Homo sapiens: one gene and its partner. The protein of the gene in region 2 interacts with the protein of the main gene of each other region in a pairwise test. Each region holds a gene or a part of one and is shown on either strand. Other genes may lie near its edges.

Evidence for each region.
Region 1: the proteins of NDRG4 (region 2) and DGAT2L6 interact in binary tests that used the Homo sapiens proteins (3 or more experiments, as listed by UniProt).

What each region holds. Positions count from the first base shown.
Region 1 is NC_000023.11:70,180,467-70,187,491, forward strand, and holds part of DGAT2L6 (diacylglycerol O-acyltransferase 2-like protein 6), read left to right. Parts: intron 1-7,025. UniProt on the Homo sapiens protein: Diglyceride acyltransferase that uses fatty acyl-CoA as substrate. Particularly active with oleate as a substrate. Has no wax synthase activity to produce wax esters.
Region 2 is NC_000016.10:58,496,039-58,503,150, reverse strand, and holds the start of NDRG4 (protein NDRG4), read right to left. Parts: upstream 3,009-7,112; 5' UTR 2,903-3,008; coding exon 2,882-2,902; intron 2,164-2,881; coding exon of another isoform or gene 2,074-2,163; intron 1-2,073. UniProt on the Homo sapiens protein: Contributes to the maintenance of intracerebral BDNF levels within the normal range, which is necessary for the preservation of spatial learning and the resistance to neuronal cell death caused by ischemic stress.

The sequences.
Region 1 (7,025 bases), on a different chromosome or scaffold from region 2:
TAAAAAATAAAAATAAAAATAAAGAATAAACGGGATTTTTTTTCACCTTCATTTTTAAAAGTTATTTTTATTGTGGTACAATACCTAGAACATAAAATTTACCGTTTTAACCATTTCTAAGTATGCTCTAAGTACATGTCATTAAGTACATTCACAATGCATGGCCACCATCCATCTCCAGAATTTTATCTTCCCAAACTGAAACTCTGTATCCATTACACAATAACTCCCTAATTCCCCCTCCCTCCAGCCCCTGGCAACCACCATTCTGCTTTCTGTCTCTATGAATTTGCCTATTCTAGGTACCTCATATAATTGGAATTATTATTCCAGTGTTTGTCCTTTCATGATTGGCTTATTTTACTTAGTATAATGGCTTTAAGGCTCACCATGTGGTATCATGGGTCAGAATTTATTTCCTTTGAAAGGCTGAGTTATACGGTGCCTTGTGTGGATATGCCACATATTGTTTTCCATTCATCTATTGATGGACATTTAGGTTGCCTTGACGTTTTGGCTATTGTGAGTAATGTTGCTATGAACATAGATGTACAAACATCTCTTTGAGACTCTGCTTTCAATGCTTTTGATATATACCCAGAAATGGAATTCCTGGATCACACAGTAATTCTGTTTTTATTTTTATTTTTTGGAATTGCCATCCTGTTTTCCTCAATGGCTGCACAATTTCACATTCCCACCAACAGTGCACAAGAGTTTCAATTTCTCCACATCCTCACCTATACTTCTTATTTTCTGTTTTTTAAATAATAGCCATCCCAATGGGTGTGAGATGATCTCATTGTGGTTTTGCTTTACATTTCCCTGATGATCAGTAATGTTGAGCATCTTTTCATGTGCCTGTTGGCCATTTGATTTGACTTCTTTTAGACTGATTAGCTTTACCATTCCATTTGTCTTTCTCTTCTAGTTTAGGTGCTATACATCTTGTTTCTGTTCTTTTAGTGATTATGCTAGAAATTACAACACAAATCCTGGGTCTTGAAGGTTACCAAGGTAGCTTCAGTGTCCAACAGGGCGTGATGCCCACAGAGGTGCCTAAGACATTCAAATATGTTCAATCCAACAGTTATAGATTAAATACTAATGATATGATCTTGGGCTGTCCTTGCTGTGAGATCCTTGCAGCCTCCTTACTATCTAGTAACAGAGATAAACCAATCATTCATTCAATCATTGTCCGCATTTTATGTGCCAGTGCTGGACATATACACAGATCACTATAATGTAAGACAGACTGTGGTGAGTGAAAGAGCCATGACAAAGTGATATTAGGGTATCGGAATAAGAAATTATTACATAAGTTGAACAGATCAGGGGAGACAGGAAAGGGAATCACCGTGGAATGGCAAACAGGACATGAGTTCTGGAGTTCATCAGACTTAGATGGCAATTAGCTATGTGACTCCAAGCAAGTACTGCAATCCCTCTAAGTCTCAGTATCCCCATCCTCTCAGTCTGGTCCATGGGAAATGCTCCTACAGAAATGTCTGCCTTCCTCCCTTCCTTCCTCCTCTTCTTTCTCGCCTATCTTTCCTTCCTCCTTTTCTTTCTCACCTTCTTTCCTTCCTTCCTTCTATCTTGCTCAGAGCCTCCCTCAGTGCTTCCCCTCCTTCCCAAATGATGTTCAGAATCATAGCTGATTACTGAGCATTACTGGAAGTAATGGGGAGGAAATAGAGAAAATGGAGGAAAGGCAGAGGGACAAGAAGGAAGGAGGAAGCAAGAAGAGAGGAACGAGAAAATGGCTTGGAGGAGATTTGGAACACAAATATTCATGTCCTTAAAATTAGGCTGTGGCTCTGACAGCCCCTCTGAGAGCCAGCTTTCATTCAGAGGATGGCTTTCCCTCATCTCTTCCGGGCTTGTATCACCATCCCCCTAAACTATCTCAATATCCTTTTTCCTGATCGTCTAACCTCTGATCTCCACCCTCTCCAATCTATTCCAGTGCTTACTTCTGGAGGTCTTTCAAAAGCATCTTTTTTTTTTTTTTTTTTTTTTTTTTTTGAGACGGAGTCTTACTCTGTTGCCCAGGCTGGAGTGCAGTGGGGCAATCTCGGCTCACTGCAACCTCTGCCTCCCGGGTTCAAGCAATTCACCTGCCTCAGCCTCCTGAGTAGCTGGGATTACAGGTGTGTGCCACCACACCCAGCTAATTTTTTGTTTGTTTGTTTTTGTTTTGAGGCAGAGTCTCGCTCTGTCGCCCAGGCTGGAGTGCAGTGGCGCGATCTCGGCTCACTGCAAGCTCCGCCTCCCGGGCTCACGCCATTCTCCTGCCTCAGCCTCCCGAGTAGCTGGGACTACAGGTGCCCGCCACGATGCCCGGCTAAGTTTTTTGTATTTTTTTAGTACAGATGGGGTTTCACCGTGTTAGCCAGGATGGTCTCGATCTCCTGACCTTGTGATCCGCCTGCCTCGGCCTCCCAAAGTGCTGGGATTACAGGCGTGAGCCACCGCGCCCGACCATTTCTTTTGTATTTTTAGTAGAGACAGGGTTTTGCCACGTTGGCCAGGCTGGTCTCGAACTCCTGACCTCAGGTGATCTGCCCTCCTCAGCCTCCCAAAGTGCTGGGATTACAGGCGTGAGCCACCGCCTCAAAAGCATATTTGATTACATCCCTCTCCTGCTCAAAAATAGTCAGTGGTTTCCCATTGCCTAAGTGATGATGTATAAAGGTATCAGACTGGGCATTCAAAGCCCTCCTCCATTCTCTGGTGTTAACCCCTTGCCAGCTCGTCCTCCTACTCTTCCCTACGTGATTGCCTTGCGTTCCAGGCAATCTATTCACTAAACAAACAGGAAATGTACTCTCCCACTCCTTCACCTCTGCTCCCACTACTCCCACTACTCCTGCCAGTGGAAAGATGGCATGATAGCTCTTCCTGGACTATCCAGGGACAGCGCCTCCTTTTAGATATTACTCAAGTCATATCTTCTCTGTAACATTTTCCAGACAACCCAAGACTATATCGCCTCTGAAAGTCTAGAGCATTTTGTAAGAATGGCTGGGTAGCAGCCATTATATCTTTGGTGCCCTCTACCCAATAAGCTCCATGAGAACAGGAGCCCTTTCTTATCATTATTATATTTCATGCAAGACCAAGCTTGACACTAACTTGAAGGTCTTCCAGATTTCTTCTTCCTCAGCAGAAATCTTTAAATTCACTCTTATTCTTTTTTCTCTCCCTTGGACATCCTTTTTGGGTGTGTGGGCCTGCCCTCTTTCTCTGGTTTCTGGTACTGTAAAAAATAGAACAGGTTGGGTGCAGTGGCTCATGCCTGTAATCCAAATATTTTTGGAGGCCGAGGTGGGAGGATCGCTCGAGCCTGGGAGTTTGAGACCAGCTTGGGCAACACAGTGAGACTCCATCTCTACAGAAAAAAAAAAAAATCAAAAAATTAGCCAGGCATGGTGGTGCATGCCTGTGGTCCTAGCTATTGTGCAGGCTGAAATGGGGGGCTCCTTTGAGCCTAAGAGGTAAAGGTTAGAGTGAGTTGTGATCACGCTATTGCACTCTAGCCTGGGTGACAGAGTGAGATCCTGTCTCAAAATAAATAAATAAAAATAGAACATAGTCTTCAGACCAGTTCTGTCACTTACTTGCTATGAGACCTTATGCAAGTGAGTCTCTGTTATTTTCTATGTGACCTTGAGCAAGTAAGTCATTCACCCTGTACCATAACAGAAACAGCATAGTACCTGCCTCTCAAGACTGTTCCAGAGATCTTTGAGGTGAGAAAATCCTCAATACATGTTAATTTTCTTCCTTTTAACTACCGAAATTGACTACTTGGAGCCCAACCACCACACCTGATAAGATACTACCAACCTTGTCAATCTTGCCACTTGATCAAGAGAGGAGTGACAACCACTCCTCTGAGGCAGACACCTTAGACACTGACTTTATTACATCTTCAGGAAGAATAATGATAACTAAAGCAGATACAGGCTTTTTCTTTTTCTTATTTTCTTTCTTTTTTTTTGGAGACAGAGTCTTGCTCTGTCTCCCAGGCTGAGGCTGGAGTGCAGTGGTATGATCATAACTCACTGCAGCCTCGAACTCCTGGGTTCAAGCGATCCTCTTGCCTCAGCTTCCCGAGTATCTGGGACTACAAGTGTGCACCACCATGCTTGGTTAATTTTTAAATTTTTTTGTAGAGACGAGGTCTCACTATGTTGCCTGGGTTGGTCTCGAACTCCTGGACTCCAGGGATCCTCCTGCCCTGGCCTCCCAAAATGCTGGCATTACAGGAGTGAGCCACCATGCCTGGCCTAGACTTTGATGCATTCCCAGCATTCCCACATACCCCATCACGGCATCTTTCATTAATCCCCTTCCATCACCCCAGCATCAACTCAGCTGCGTTGGGCTGAAAAATTCTACCTCCTTGGTGACTTTCAAATTGGTATGTGAAATAGTAGCCTATTTCAGGTTCCCATTGGCTTTCATCTGAATGCCAAAACTCTTAGCTGATCTCTTTGCCTATAGTTTCTCTTGCTCTCACAGTTATTCCAGATTATCTTCCTGAAACAGACACGATCATGCTACTCTTCTGCTCTCTGCTTACTAACCTTTACTGGCTATTCATTTCCTTCAGCATCAGGCCTAATCTCTCCAGTTTCCTTCCCAGCTTCATCTCCTGTACCACGGCTTCCTTAGGCTGCCTGTGTTTTTGCAGGTAATGATGTTACTCCCAGGCCTTGGACTCTCCCATCTCCTGGACTTTGTTCAGGCTCTTCTTTGTGCATGGAGGACCCTTCCTCTACCAATCCATCTGACAAAAATCCTACCTTTCCTCCAAAATTCAACTTTGAACCTTATCTTTCACAAGAAACCCAGAGCTTCTCCAAGACAGGAATTTTGTTTTCCACACGTATTAATGTGAGTTAATACACATGAGGTACTTAAAATAGTTATTGGCACATAATGAATGCTATCTACTTTTTTTCCTACAGCTTGGAGTAAAGATACATGATCTCTCTGATTCTTAGTTTCTTCATCTGTAAAACGAGATAATAAAATTATCCACCTATGAGGACTGCAAGAACATTAAATGAGATAATATACATTAAGTGCTGAACAGAGTGCTGTTTCACAACAAATGGTCAATACATGGTATCAAGGACCATGCTTGCATTATTTTCATCATTTCCATATTTACTCCTTTCACCCTCCCCTTTCCAGTTCCCAACCCTGTCCCCATGGCTTTTAACATAGAGATTTCATATGAGGTAGGCTCATCAATGTTTACTGAATTATTAAATTACCTGTCACTCCTACAAGTTCTTATATTTATAGTTTATTTGGATCCAACAAGTAATCACAAAGCCACAGAAATTCCTCTTTGACAAACTACTTTTGTTTTTTTTTTGTTTTGTTTTTTTGTTTTTTTTTTTTAAATTTCTGAAGGCATTGAGCCAACTGACTAGATTAGGCAAGCATTGCCAACATTCAGATTTAGGTCATTGCCCCGAAACATGAAACATAATGTTTTCACCCATAAGAATTATAGGTTTTCACCTTACACTGGAAATAACTCGTTGCCTATATCCTTACACACACATGCACACCTTATAACTTCAGATAGCCTTTCCTTGTTTGGAATACGGTTTCTCTTCCTATTAACTTTCACCTGCAACTTGGAGAATTGTGAAATTGAACTTCTTCCTTTACTATAATTCAATGTAATGAACATTTATCATAAGCTATCTCTCTGTGTTTGGCACTGTGCTAAAGGCCAAACTTACTGTCTGATAGGGAGAGAGACAGACATATGAGGTACTAATTACACCATCAAACAAAATGAACCAGAACCAGAAAGAAGCACGAGTAATGTCTTGGGAGTGTGCAGAAGAGGGAGTCCTCAATTCTGACCGGGAGATGAGCAAAGATATCACAAGGAAGTGTCATTTGAGCTAAACCATAAAGCCTGAGAGAATTTTGATAAGCAGAAAGTTGGAAAGAGAGTAATAAAAATAAGGGAACAGTATCATCAAAGGCACAGAAATGTGAATTACATGGTGAGTTGAGGGAATGGGAAGTAGACAAAGGTGGTCGGGCCCGTTTCCCATACTTTAGCCATTTGTGTCCCATCTTCTGGCTCTTTCCACAGCTGTGTACCACCTATGCTATTATTACTTAACATACTTTTCCTTCAAATTAAGTCATCTCTGTAGCCTAAATTAATGTATTTTAACAGGAAATTTTATATCGCTACCATGAATTTGCTTTTATTCTCTATGCATTAAAATAACTTTTTATCCATACACCACCTTGGATCATCTAATGTCCCTACAGGGCATGGGAACACTAGGCTACGAAACACTTTGAGAAATACTAGGCTGCAGCATAAGGAATGTGAGTACGGCTACTGAGAGATGAGGCTAGGAAGACACGTGGGGCTAGGCCAGTGAGGGCCTTGAATACCAAGCCAATGTGTTCAGACTTTATTCTGTCAGCAGTTGGAAAATATTGATGGTTTTGGAGGAAGCAAACAACATTATGTGATTGTGCTTTTTAAAAATTTCTGGCAGAGGTGTGGGAAATGGATTGGAGGGGAAGAAACCCATAGCTGAAGGGCAGACAAAAGGCTGCAGTCCAGACTAGAAAAAAATCAAGTCCTGGACCATAGCAGTAGCAATGGGGACAGAGGCAGGAAGACGGATAGGAGAAGTTTTTTGTTTGTTTGTTTGTTTGTTTGTTTGTTTGTTTGGAAAGGGAAAGAAGTCAAAGATGGCCTAAAAATATTGAACCTATGACATTTATCTTGAGGCCTGAAAGATGAATAGGAACTAGCCAGACACAGAGCTGAAGAGAGAGTTTTCCAGGCAAAGGGGACCGCAGGCAGAGAAGCCCTGAAGCTAGAGAGCACTTGAAGGAGCTGAAAAAAATAGCATGGTGGAATGCAAAGAACAAGGTGGTGGCCAGAGACTAGATCACCAAGATCTCCTAACCCTTCTAAGCCAGGGTTAGGAGACTGGACTTGATCCTAAGGGCCA
Region 2 (7,112 bases):
TGAGTTCACACCTTTGGTTTTGCTGCTCAAGGTCATTACTTCCTCAGGAAGACCTGGTTCTACCCCTTACTTGTGACTGAGCATGTCATGTTACTTCTCTGCTGTGCCTCAGCCTCTCCATCCAGAACCACCTCACAGGGACTTTGCGGGAACTAGACAAGCCAATGTTTGTGGAGCATTTAGCACTTGGAGAAAGCCCCAGAAAGGGGGCTGTTATGCTAGGGCATCCCTGAGCCTTGGGAGAATGCCCTTCTCGCTGTTCCTTTGCAAACTGGGCATTCTTAGCCACTCGGATGGGCAAACTTCAAGAGGGGCCATCTGAGCTAAATAAACCGATCCTCTCTGCATCATTGTGAGCCCTGGGAACCACGTGAGTGGCCCAGTGAGTTGGAGGTGGGGCTGGGGTCAAGGACATGAAAGAAACATCAAGCGACTGAGCACCTACTGTGTGCCAGGCTTCCTGCATGTTACCCAAGAGACAGGAACCCTAGTCCCTGTTTTGCAGGTGAGGACACTTTGGTTTAGAAAGAACCTGAGTTCCTGCCTCCAAATGGGAAAGGAGATTTAGACAGCAGAAGACAGCTGCTCAGGGGCCAGCATTAGTGGGTCTGGTCTCAGAGGACCACTGTCCAGGCCTGTGTCTCCAGTGTGGAGTGACAAGCTGGCACCAACCTGGTGGCCAAAGGCTCTACCCTGGAGAACACTCTTTGACTTGCAGGCCCTTTTTATTTCCCTGTTGTCCTCCAGGAGAGCCCAGGTAATGAGCCTTAGGGTGAGCCATGCGGCTGATTGCACCACCCAGGGGATGAGGAGGCCACACCAGGGCTGAGAGGGGACAGACCACACAGCCCCTCCCATCCCAGGCCTATCCTTTCTCGGGGCCCATCAAATCCAGGAACACTTCCCCGCCACTGACCACTGACCCACAGTTTTCTCATTTACTTCCCACATAGGCCCAAGCCATAGAGGAGGAAATTGAGGCTAGGAAAGGGAAATGACTTGCCCAAGGTCAATCCCAGAGTAGGGAGGGCAGGCCCTGCCAGGTGCCAGTCTCAGGGGCCAGGGCGGTGCACTGAAGGCTGCATGTTCACAGGAGATCAGGTTCCACCCGAGGGAGCTCCTGACCAGGCAGCCCTTTCACAGCCACCTGTGAGTTCTCTCAGCTCTGGAGGGTGGGGCTGCAAAAGAACTGCAATGCGCCTCCTGCTGCATAAAGGACAGTTATCCTCCTGGGGTCAGACGTCGAGAGCCCAGGGCGGTGCCTTCCAAACCCAGACCCGCAGCGTGCGGGTCCGCCTGAGGGGTGTGAGGGGTGTCTGCTCTCTGCTGCTGAGGAGGCCCCACTGTCTTCTCCCAGCCCTGGTGTGGCCGCCCCTGTCCCCATCCCCCTGAGGTGACGTGATCAGGCTCTACTAGGGCTCATCTCCCAGGATGGGAAGGGCTGGGGCTGGGCCTGGGCGTCACCGGGCTACCTGTCCTACGAAGTCCAGTGACCTTCGCTGAACCCTGCTGCGAACCTCCCTAACGCCTTCTCTCACCCTCTGCGGAGAGCTCAGGACTCAGTTCAGCCTGATCGAAGCCAAACATCCCCGTCCCTTGGAGCGCTGCGCAAGGGCAGCCCCACAAGGGCCACAGCGCGGTGCACTCTGAGGCCCCCAACCCTCAGGGCCGAGCACTCCCATTGGCTCTGGGTGACGTCAGAGCCGGCCCCGCCTCCAGGTAGGCGCAGGCGGGAAGCACTGCGGCAGCAGGGGAGGGGGCTGTGGCGGCTCCTCTCGGTCGGTCCGTCTCCCCTCGCCTGTGACCTTGAGCACTGGAGGGGAGTGGGGCTTTGAGCCGGGCTTTGCGCCGGTGTGGGAGTTGGTGCTGGTGGTGCTGTGGTTCGGCCTGTCAGCCGCATCAATAATTCAGGGGACAGGGTCTGCATGGGCGGGCAGGTGCTGACGTCGTCACCTCCGTGCGTGCGGGGTGACCTATCGTCTGCGGAACCGGCAGGGCAGGCGTGTGGGGCCCGGGGGTGGGGGTGAGTCTGCCCCTGCCTCTCCCTCCTGAGGAAGAATGGGGCCGGGGTACCTGATGCCCCGGCGAGAGGAGGTGCCCTGGGCTCCACCTGGGGTCCCCTAGCCCTGCCAGCTTCACGGCTCCAGCGTTGCCTTCCCCCACCTACAAAATAAGGCAGGCAGGCAACCCCTCCTCGTTCCTCCCCAGCAGGGACCCCTGCCTGAAAGGCTGTCATTCCTGTGTGGCCCAGACCTCCTTGCCTCTGCCCGGCTGGCGCAGCAGAGCCCTGGGAACTGTGAGGTGGCTCCTAAGGAAGAGGCCGCCTGTCCTTCCCATCACACTGGCGCAGCCATCCAAACAAGCTAGACGGCCGCCCACTGGGACGGCAGCCCCTGCACGCACAGACCCGGCACGCACACTGGGCACACAGCCTCGGGGGCTCACCAAGGACACCCCCGCCCCCTGGCCTGATGGCCCCAGGCATCACCAAGGCAGACACCATCCAAGCGCACACCAGAGGGCACACGGTCAGAGGGACATGCAGGCACTAGCGCCCGGGTCCACACGGGCAATGCAGCCAAGTCAGACAGTGCCTTCCACGTTCCATTTCCTGCAGATATGTCACCCACCCCCCAACCACACGCTCCCCCCAGCCCCTGCTATGGGCTCTGACTAGCAGCTGCCCCCAGCCACTCCTGCAAACAGGATCACCAGGGAACCTGGAGCACTCTGGCCGTGTCTCAGTGACCCCAGGGTGAGGCTATTTGAAGGCCGGGCTGCCACCAGATGTGGGTTGAGGGGGGCACTTCCTCCCTGCGGTGGGTCATAAGGATGCACCATCCTCCCGGCCCACCTTGATGCCCGCAGCGCCCTCACTCACCCCATCCCAGCACTCCGGCATCTTGCCGAGGGAGGGAACCCGCCTCTACCAGGAAGGACAAACAAAGGCCTGAGTCACTCGGGTCCAGAGGGCGGGGGCAGCTCGAGTGGGAGATGGTCGGCTCTGTGATGGGGCACAGCTCCTGGGCCATTTATACAGGGATCCTGGCCCAGCCTAGCTAGCCCCTCCTCCCCGCAGGGTTTCTGAGCAGCCACTCGCTTACCAGGAGCCCCAGCTCCCATATTGGCTGCTGGGAGACAAGCCTGGCTCCAATTGGCTTCTGAAGTCCTCCTTGCCCCAGCCCTGTCACTGCTCCTCCCACCCCAGCCACACATCATCCTTGATGGTCCCCAGCCCCTGCATCCGCCCCCAGCACATAGGCACACGCCAACAGCTGCAGCTCACACGGGATCCTCCGAATACAAAAGCCGAGACCACACGTACAGACTCACCCATGTCAGGTACACACAGGGTCGTCACAGACATGCACAGCTTACCAATGCGGGGCAGGGCAGGGTGCATGGGCACTGCCCAGACAGCTAGAGCCCTTGACCCACACCTTGGGGAGTATGGAGGGCCCGAGAGGGCCCCAAGCCCAACATCTTGGGGACCAGACCCCCACGCCCAGCCTTCCCATTAGGAAGGTTCCATCGCTTAACCTTGTGGAGGCCTGGGGAGCTGCTGCTTTCTGGGGCAACTTGGGTTATCACCCTGCTTCAAGGGGCTGCTCCTTCTCCACCCACCAGGGATGAAAATCCCACCTTGCCCACGCAGATACAGGGGGTTTCCCCACATGCTGAAAATGGAGTTTGGGGGCCGGGGGCCAGGGGCCCTGGGCAGATAGCAGGGCCAGGGGTATGGTCAGGCACACACCAGCTCTGCCCTCCCCACCCTCACCCTGCTGCCAGGGGCTCCAGACCACCAGGGAGAGGAAGCGGGGCTAGGAGGCAGCTTGCTGACATTGACATGCCCACCTCCTGTAGACCCACCCGGCCCTCGTTCCCAGAGGCAACCAGTTTGGGGCTTGGCTCTCGGGTCTCTGGGGAGCAGAACACTAGGTCTATCTCAGGCTCCGTGCCCTGTTCTCCTGGGCAGCAAGGATCTGGGTGGCGAGCTCGCCCGAGGCCTGCAGGTGGAGTGAGCAGAGGAGAAGAAAGGCCAAGAAGTGCACAGGAGGAGAGGAAATAGGCCAGAGAGGGAAGCAGAGGAGGGGGCCCAAGGCTGGGAGAGCAGGAGCCACAGAGAGAAGGGGGCTGCTGCGTGCCTATGCTCCCAAATCCATGAAGATTATATGTATTATCGTTGCAACTGCCTGTGCAGTAGGCACTGCTGTTTCTCCCATTTATATATGGAGGCTCAGAGAGGTTGACTGACTTGCCCAAGGTCACACAGCAAAGAAGTGGCAGACCTATGAGTGGGATCAGGGTTTGGCTGGCAAGACCTGACCCTGCCTTGTCTGGCCACGATAACTGCACAACTGCCAGAAAAGGGGCCAACAGTTTGGAGAGGCACACAGACTGCCCCATTTCTCTCCTGCCAGGGCCTGGGCAAGGGTGGGGTCAGGGCACAGAGCCTGAGATAGCCCTAGTGTCCTGCTCCCCAGATACCCGAGAGCCAAGCCCCAAACTGGTTGCCTCCAGGAACAAGGGCCGGGTGGGTCTACAGGAGGTGGGCATGTCAACGTCAGTAGCTGCCTCCTATCCGGCTTCCTCTCCCTGTCTTGCTGAAGAAGGAACACGCCACTCACCCCAGCCCATGCTGATGGCCCTGCATGCTGACTGGCTGCCCTTGGAGAAAGTGGTCATCTCTTCATCTCTGGGTACCTGCTGACCTGGTCGACACCTGCTATGTACACTATTGCTGGTCATGTCCTCTGCCTGGGGGCACCTATTCCATCTCTCACCTCTTACTCTGGAGGCCTAGGGAAGACTGACAGGCCCTGTGCTCCCCAGGGCAGCAGGAAGTAGAATGGGGAGTCCCCCTGGCCCGTCACCTCCTGGCCATGCTCCCCATTCCTGCAGGCACTGTGGCACAGGAAGAGGCTTGGAAAACTGAGGCACAGCCCTGCCCTCTGCCCACAATGCCCTCCCATGTCCCCCAAGGCCCCACCCAATCCTACGCCCACTCCAACCTCTGACCCCTGAGTGGCCTCTCCCCACCTTTGGACCCAGGTGACAAGCTGACCTGCGACACTGCCCACTCCAAGCCACAGCCTCCATGACTGCTCAGCTGTCTGCAAACCCACAGACGTGGGTTTAAGTCCTTCCTGGCCCCCTACCAGCCGGGTGACCTTGGGCAAGATTTTTTTTTTAACCTCTCTGTGTCTCAGGCTTCTAATTGTAAAGCAGGGACTGTGTGCCTTTCTCACCAAGCTGCTGTGAGAATCAGAAAAAACTGCAGAAATCACTCTAGATCTGACCCCACCCCTGCCCAGGTCCTGGCAGGGGAGAAATGAGGCAGCCTGTGTGCCTCTCCAAATTGTTGGCCCTTTTTCTGGTGGTTGTGCAGTTACAGTGGCCAGACAAGGCAGGCTCAGGTCTTGCCAGCCAAACCCAGGTCTTGCCAGCCAAACCCTGGTGCCACTCATAGCTCTGCCACTTCTTTGCTGTGTGACCTTGGGGAAGTCAATCAACCTCTCTGAGCCTCCGTATGTAAATGGGAGAAACAGCAGTGCCTACTGCACAGGCAGCTGCAAGGATAATACATATAATCCTCATGGACCTATGAGAAGGGATGAGGAAACTGAGAGTTGGAGAGGTTAGGTAATTTCCTCACTTGGCTAGTAAGCAGCGGCAGCTACTAGTACCCCAGCACTCTGGGTGGGCCTGAGGTCTCAGAATCAAGAGTGGCAAACACTATGTTCAAATGTCCTCCATGTGCCAGGCTTTCTTGGAGTGCTTTACCCATTCTCTCTATCCCTCTTTTTTTTTCTTCTTCTTCTTTTTTTGGAGACATGGTCTTGCTCTGTTGCCCAGGCTGGAGTGCAATGGTGCAATCTCTGCTCACTGCAACCTCCGCCTCCCGGGTTCAAGCCATTCTCCTGCCTCAGCCTCCCAAGTAGCTGGGACTACCAGCGCCTGCCACCACACCTGGCTAATTATTGTATTTTTAGTAGAGATGGGGTTTCACTATATTGGCAAGGCTGGCCTCAAACTCCTGACCTCAAGTGATGCACCTGCCTCAGCCTCCGAAAGTGCTGAGATTACAGGTATGAGTCACCACACCCAGCCTTTATCCTCTTTTTGGAAAATATTTTTAAGTATGGAAGGCTTCACGAATATGTGGGTCATTCTTGTACAGGGGTCGTGCTCATCTTCTCTGTATCATTCCAATTTTGGTATATGTGCTGCTGGGGCGAGCACTCATTTTCTCTCTTAATACCCTCTTTACAAATGAGGCAAATAAAGCACAGGGAGGTTTGGTAACCTGCCTAACATCACACAGCTAGTGGGCACAGAGCCAGGAACCACACCCAGGCAGTTTGGTGCTAACTCCACACTCTGGTGGCCACTCGTCACGGTCAGCTGAGTGTCCATATGAGGGGCCCATGGGCACCATCGCCTTAGAAACACTCGGGAGGTCCGTGCTGCCTGTCTCCCTGAAAATGCGGTAGACAAATGGAGTGACTTGGGCTGGAGGTCACATGCTTGGAAGTGGCGGGGCCAGAACCTAGGTCTGTCTGGCTCATGTTAGTCCCTCTGCTATACTACCTCCCCCACTGGCTGCCCCCACGGAGGCAGGGGACAGTGACAACGCCTGCCATAGTGAGCAGGAGATAAAATCCCTGCCAGGTCTTGGCCCAGATAACGACCATCCATTCTTGTGGCTGCTTTTCTAAAACAAAAAACGAAAAAAATGCTGCCTCCATGTGGTGTGACAGGAGTGGACAGGAAGGTGCCTTTTAATGCAACCTGCCTTTTACCAAGCAGAGGATCCTGAGAACCGGGGTCCCACACACCCTGGGCCCCGCAACTCCGGGGCTGCAGCTCAGAGGGCTCAGGGGCCAGAGGCAGCTTCGCAGCAGCAGTTGGGAACCCAGAGGTATGGTAGGGTCTCCTCCACGACTCCAGGATTCCCCTCTGCCTGTCCCCCACACCGTGGGCCTGTGTGCTGGGGCTGGCATCAGCACTGTTGGCGTCGGCCTCCCACACTGTGGGACCAGTGTGTTGAGGCACCGGCTGGCTGCTCTGAGATTTTACTTGGCCAACCCCCTCCTCCAGGGCCCATTTGC